Homo sapiens: one gene and its partner. The protein of the gene in region 1 purifies or fractionates together with the protein of each later gene. This does not show direct contact. Each region holds a gene or a part of one and is shown on either strand. Other genes may lie near its edges.

Region 1 (3,500 bases):
ACACTGGATACTGGAAGTTTATCACAGTGGCCCAAACCACTGATGGCTGTCCAGTTATTGGGTTTGATTTATTCACATAATCATAACACCAACTGGAATTCTTTAAAACTTTTTAAAAAAGTGTAGATAATAGGAAGATGATCCTTACTACTCATCCATGCAGAGCAAATCACATTTACAACAATCATTTTAGAGTTTCTCTTTCTGGACTTTTCTTCATAGGTTCATAGGTTTTTTTTTTTTAGATGGACTTTCGCTCTTGTTGCCCAGGCTGGAATGCAATGGCACGGTCTCGACTCACTGCAACCTCTGCTTCCTGGGTTCAAGAGATTCTCCTGCCTCAGCCTCCTGAGTAGCTGTGATTACAGGTGCGTGTCACCATGTCTGGCTAATTAGAGACGGGATTTCACCATGTTGGCCAAGCTGGTCTCAAACTCCTGACCCCGTGATCCACCCGCCTCGGCCTCCCAAAGTGCTGGGGTTACAGGCGTGAGCCACCGTGCCGGGCCCTTCATAGGTATGTTTTACATATCATCACAGCATACATATAATTTCCATCCTGTGTTTTTTCCTCATCATACATTTTCCCACATTGCCACATGGCCTCATCAACACCAACTTAATTCTTTCTTGAGACGGAGTTTCTCTCATCACCCACGCTGGACTGCAATGGCATGATCTCAGCTCAGTGTAACCTGTGCCTCCTGGGTTCAAGTGATTCTCCTGCCTCAGCCTCCCAAGTAGCTGGGATTACAGGCACCTGCCACCATGCCTGGGTAATTTTTGTATTTTTAGTAGAGACGGGGTTTCACCATGTTGGCCAGGCTGGTCTCGAACTCCCAACCTCAGGTGATCCACCTGCCTCGGCCTCCCAAAGTGCTGGGATTACAGGCGTGTGCCACTGCGCCCAACCAACTAACTTAATTCTTGTATGATCTGCCATAATTTAACTACTAACTGAAGGACATTTAGCTTTTTTTTTTTTTTTTTTTCTGAGACGTAGTCTCACTGTGTTGCCCAGGCTGGAGTCAGTGGTGCAATCTCAGCTCACTGCAACCTCTGCTTCCTGAGGTCAAGCGATTCTCCTGCCTCAGCCTCCTGAGTAGCTGGGACTACAGGTGCGTGCCACCATGCCTAGCTAATTTTTGTATATTTTCTAGAGATGGGGTTTCACCATATTGGCCAGGCTAGTCTCAAACTCCTGACCTCATGATATGCCCACCTCACCCTCCCAATGTGCTGGGATTACAGGCATGAGCCACCGCGCCCGGCCCATTTCGCTTTTAAGTGTTTACAATTAGGCAGTCCTGGTGGCTCTCACCTGTAATCCAACACTTTGGAAGGCTGAGGCAGAAGGATCACCTAAGGCAGATTGAGACCAGCCGGCACAACATAGTGAGACCTCCCTCTCTACAAATAATAATTAAAAAAAAAAATTAGCAAGGTGTGGTGGTGTACACCTGTAGTCTCACTCCTCAGAAGGATGGGGTGGGAGATTACTTAAGCCTAGAAGATCCAAGCTGCAGTGAGCTAAGTCACACCATTGCACTCCACCCTGGGTGACAGAATAAAACTCCGTATTAAAAAAAAAAGTTTTCATAATTATAAGTTAGGCTGTGATGTTTTCTTTCTTTTTTAACGAGACAGGGTCGGCCGGGCATGGTGACTCATGCCTGTAATCCCAGCACTTTGGGAGGCCGAGGCAGGCGGATCACGAGGTTAAGAGATCGAGACCATCCTAAGCAGTATGATGAAACCCCCGTCTCTACTAAAAATACAAAAATTAGCTGGGCGTGGTTGTGCGCGCCTGTAGTCCCAGCTACTCAGGAGGCTGAGGCAGGTGAATCGCTTGAACCTGGGAGGCAGAGGTTGCAGTGAGCCGAGATAGCACCACTGCACTCCAGCCTGGCGACAGAGGAAGACTCTGCCTCAAAAAAAAAAAAAAAGAAAAAAAAAAAAGAAAAGAAAAAAGAGACAGGGTCTCGGCCAGGCACAGTGGCCTGTAATCCCAGCACTTTGGGAGGCCAAAGGTGGGTGGATCACCTGAGCACGGGCGTTCAAGACCAGCCTGACCAACAGGGAGAAACCCTGTCTCTATTAAAATACAAAATTAGCCAGGCGTGATGGCACATGCCTGTAATCCCAGTTACTCTGGAGGCTGAGACAGGAGAATCACTTGAACCCAGGAGGCAGAGATTGTGGTGAGCCGAGATCACACCATTGCACTCCAGCCTGGGCAACAAGAATGAAAATCCGTCTCAAACAAACAAACAAACAAAAAAGACAGGGTCTTAGCCTGGCACCCAGACTGGAATGCAGTGGTACAATCACAGCTCACTGCAACCTTGAACTCGTGGGCTCAAGCGATCCTCCCACCTGAGCTTTCCAAAGTGCTGGGATTAATTACAACCACCGTGCCTGGACTGGATATGATGTTTTCTGTTTTGGATAATCTCCTTAGGATAAATTTCCAGATATGTAGAGGCAATAGGTAACACAAATTTTATAGCCCTTGATGAGTACGAATAACTTTATAGAAGTCTGTGCTTCATAATACAAAGTTTAAGCAACCTTCTAAGAAGTGGGCATAAACAGAGTCTCATTTAACTAGATTTCTATTTACTAATGAGAGGAACCGTCTTTTCTCTAGGTTTGCTTATTGATTTCTTCTTCTGTAAAGTGTTGTTCATCTCCTCTGACTATTTACTCTAGGGGCTTAAGTATTTCTTACCAAGTGTATTTTTCTATTTACAATCCTAACATTTACATTTCTTTAAAAAAGTTTTAAAAACACTACGATGTTAACAGTAGTGTGACTGATTTTGTTCAATTTCTTTGTAACTGTGGTTGTAAGACTTTTTATTTTGAGATTTGTTAAAAAAGGAGAAGCCTAATACATGCATACACATATGCCTAGAAATGTATGCAGTCGTAGATACACGGCTGAATTATGCAGTCGCAGATACACGGTCGAATTAATCAATCTCTGTAAGGCAAGATTACAGGTGACTACTGTTCTTTGGTTAAACTATCTTTCCTCGTTTTCCATGATTCATGTTTCTTACTTGTATAATAAAAGTTACAAAAAGTTACCAAAGAAGACCACATTCCAAGAATACTTGAACAGATGTAAAACAATTAAATGTCTCATCTAGGAACCAATCTTTCATTGGCCTATTTTCAATCCACTTCTTTTTGCCACAATTTAATTATGGCTTCATTCCCATGTTTATTCTAATTTTCATATAACAGAGATTCATCTCCAGAAGGAAAAAATTGGCAGTCTTGCAGAATTTCTAAAAATTCTGAAATAATATCTGAGCTTAGACTTACTTGTTTAAAGGCCACTACTGCTCTAAATGGAAATCTGGAGCACCACAAAATGCTCTTATCCATCAGGCTGGTGGCGCTGTGTCTGGTACACGTATATTTTTGTTTTGGTTGAAATGTGTTAGAGGACGGTCTTCGGCAACTAAAGGGATACCACAAAGAAACATACT
Region 2 (3,500 bases), on another chromosome or scaffold:
ATCTCTAGACTCTGAGAAGGACACACTTGTGGCTGTGAACTAGGGTGCTCCGTGTTCTTGAACCTGGCTTCTGACTTCTGTCACCTTATGCCGCCATCCCTTCCCTCTGTGCTGCAACTGGGCTGGTTTCCTCTGTGTTCCTGCAGTGCCTGTGCTCCTCTTCCCAGGATTTCACATCTGCTGTCTGGAATAGTCTCCTTCTCTCTCTCCACCCACTCCTTCCCCCACCTAATTGCTTCCTCCTTACCCTTCTGAGCTCAGCCCAAATACTACTTCCAGGAAGTAGGTAGGCCCTGGCCACTGTCCCTCCCCAGGCCGGGCCCGTGTGGTATGTGCTTTCAGAGTGTCCTGCTCCTCCCTGTACCACTGAGCACCGTGGTAGTGAATGAACTAATGACTTGTGGAACCACTGCTGAATATCTGTCTCCCCTGTTAGAAGGAAAGTAGCTCAAGGGCAGGGACTGAGCTTCTCCAGTGCAGTCCTGTTTGCTGAGCACCTAAAAAGTGTCTTGCACATAGAGCTCTATAAGTGGGCTTGACACAGTAAATGAACAAGGTGCTGCCTCCTGGCCCCTCTAGGACTCTAACAAGCCTACTTGAGTTCACCTGCTGGCTCTCCCATGTTTGCTCATGCAGTCGACTTTGCCTCAGCTTGACTTCCCCTGATGGCTCTTATCCTTTCAGGGTTCTACGGTTGCCAGAGAAGCGAGCGACAAGGAGAAGGTATGCTGGTGCTGAGCAGGAATGGAAGGGTCGCTTGGAGTCAGAAACAACTCCTGTCGGCCATCCTGTCCCTCGCCCACCCCAGCCCCTAGCCCAGCTCCCAGACATGCCGTCTGTCAACATGAAATGCCGTGTGTCATGAATCACCTGTCTGTCCTTGTGCTAGGCCTAGACCTTGGTCTCTGGTCTTTTACCTCTGCCCTCACTACGTTCTTCATAGTCCTGCTGGGATGGCAGACATTTCTATCTCATAGTCCAGCCTGAGTCAGTCAGTGGCTGCCTGAGCCCTGAGCTGGTCCAGGCTCAACAGGAAAGAATCCTTTAGTCATTCCTCATCTTTCATGTGTTTGCCCTCCCTGCCCACCCAAAGCCTGGGACTAGAGGCTCCTGCACTGCTGATTTAGCAGGTTGAGGGTCGGTACACTGACAACCCCTCCTTCCCCTTTCTGTATAGTTGCTCCCGGCAGAACAGTTGGGTGTCCCTGGGGTGAATTAATCAGGCTTACCCAGCCTAACTGCTGTTGCTCTCCTAGGCCAAGGACTTGCCAACATTCAAAGACAATGACTTCCTCAATGAAGGGCAGAAGCTGCATGTGGGAGAGGAGAGTAAAAAGAACTTCCTGGAGAAACTGAAGCGGGACGTTGAGGTACTTACTAACCTTCATTTTCACCTGCAAGGCTCCTTCTGTACCTAGAGTAGGCGCCTCTTAAACCTTAAGAAGAATGGAATTCAGTACTTTCCAGGAGTATGGACAAAAGGGTGGTGATTTGAGCAGCGTGGGCACTTATGGGCACCTAAAGCAAGTGCAAATGATCATTCCACCTGACGGAGCATAGTTGGCGCCAGTAGGACCTTTGTAATTTAGTTTAGAATGCTTTTCCCTTTTCACTAATTCATTCCAACACCTTTTTCAAACTCCCTTCTGCTGTTGTCCCTACAATGGAGAGGGCATCTGGCCATCAGAGCTGTAGGAACCCAGCTATTAAGGTCCTGTAACCCCAACATTTTGGGAGGCTGAGGTGGGAGGATCGCTTGAGCTCAGCAGTTCAATACCAGCCTAGGCAACATAGCAAGACCTCATCTCTACTAAAAATTAAAAAATTTAGCCAGGCGTAGGGGCACACACCTGTAGTCCCAGCTACTTGGGAGGCTGAGGCGAAAGGATTGTTTGAGCCCGGGAGATGAGGCTGCAGTGAGCTGTGGTCTCACCACTACACTCCAGCCTGGGCAACAGAGCAAGACATTGTCTCAAAACAAAAACCGAAAAAGTTGGCTAAGCATGGTGGCTTACTCTTGTAATCCCAGCACCTTGGAAGGGTGAGGCAGGAGGATCACTGGAGCCTGGCAGATCAAGGCAACATGAGCTGTGATCATGCCACTGTGCTCCAGCCTGGGTGACAGAGCAAGACCCTGTCTCAAAAAACAAAAATCCACTAATCAGGTTCTTCTCTGGCTCTGGCTCTGATTCTCCACTTACCTAGCAAACTTCTGTTTGTAATCTGGGGAGGACAGGTGCTAAATAGTGAAAATGTTATCTGGACCACTTGATAACTCAGCGTCTCCTTCTCTTTTAATAAATTGAGAGGCTGCTCGTTAAAACCAAATCCTACAAACAAACTTGGGAAAAAAAATTTTTTTTAATTGTGGTAAAATACATATAATAATAGGTGTTTTTTTTGTTTGTTTGTTTGTTTTGTTTTTTTTTAGGAGATTCTCGTTCTGTCCCCAGGCTGGAGTGCAGTGCAGTGGCACGATCTCGGCTCACTGCAACCTCCGCCTCCTGGGTTCAAGTGATTCTCCTACCTCAGCCTCCCAAGTAGCTGGGACTATAGGCACGCACCTTAACCATTTTGATATATAGTTGAGTGGCATTAAGTATATTCACATTGTTATGCAACCAGCACTACCATTCATCTCTGAACTTTTATCTTTCCCAGCTGAAACTCTATACCCATTAAATACTAATTCCCAATTCCCCCTCCCTAACCCCTGGCAATCAGTGTTCAATTTTCTGCCCCTATGAAGTTGACTACTCTAGGAACTTCACATAAGAGGAAGCAAACAGCCAAGCGAGGTGGCTCATGCCTGTAATCCCAGCACTTTGGGAGGCTGAGGTGGGCGGATCTTCTGAGGTCAGGAGTTTGAGACCAGCCTGACCAACATGGAGAAACCCAGTCTCTACTGAAAATACAAAATTAGCCGGGCATGGTGGTGCACGCCTGTAATCCCAGCTACTTGGGAGGCTGAGGCAAGAGAATCGCTTGAACCCAGGAGGCGGAGGTTGCGGTGACCCTCCAGCTTGGGCAACATGTTATGAATGAAACTCCATCTCAAAAAATAAAAAAAAAAAAAGGAAGCAAACAGCAGTTGTCCTTTTGTGACTCTGTTATTTTGCTTAGCATAATGTCTTCAGGGTTCATCCATACTGTATCATGTGTCAGAATTTTTTTCTTTTTATTATTTATTTATTTGTTTTGAGACAGAGTCTCGCTCTGTTGCCAGGCTGGAGTGCAGTGGTGCGATCTCGGCTCACTGCAACCTCCGCCTCCCGGGTTCAAGCGATTCTCCTGCTTCAGCCTCCCAAGTAGCTGGGACTACAGGCGCGTGCTGCCACGCCCAGCTAATTTTTGTATTTTTTTAGTGGAGACGGGGTTTCACCATGTTGACCAGGATGGTTTCGATCTCCTGACCTCGTGATCTGCCTGCCTCGGCCTCCCAGAGTGCTGGGATTACAGGCGTGAGCCACCACACCTGGCCAGAATTTCTTTCTTTTTAA

The links.
Region 2: the proteins of CAD (region 1) and PIP4K2B fractionate together in Homo sapiens (co-fractionation; one large-scale study listed by BioGRID). This does not show direct contact.

The regions. Positions count from the first base shown.
Region 1 is NC_000002.12:27,227,369-27,230,868, reverse strand, and holds part of CAD (multifunctional protein CAD), read right to left. Parts: intron 1-3,500. UniProt on the Homo sapiens protein: Multifunctional protein that encodes the first 3 enzymatic activities of the de novo pyrimidine pathway: carbamoylphosphate synthetase (CPSase; EC 6.3.5.5), aspartate transcarbamylase (ATCase; EC 2.1.3.2) and dihydroorotase (DHOase; EC 3.5.2.3).
Region 2 is NC_000017.11:38,775,557-38,779,056, reverse strand, and holds part of PIP4K2B (phosphatidylinositol 5-phosphate 4-kinase type-2 beta), read left to right. Parts: intron 1-684; coding exon 685-723; intron 724-1,256; coding exon 1,257-1,370; intron 1,371-3,500. UniProt on the Homo sapiens protein: Participates in the biosynthesis of phosphatidylinositol 4,5-bisphosphate. Preferentially utilizes GTP, rather than ATP, for PI(5)P phosphorylation and its activity reflects changes in direct proportion to the physiological GTP concentration.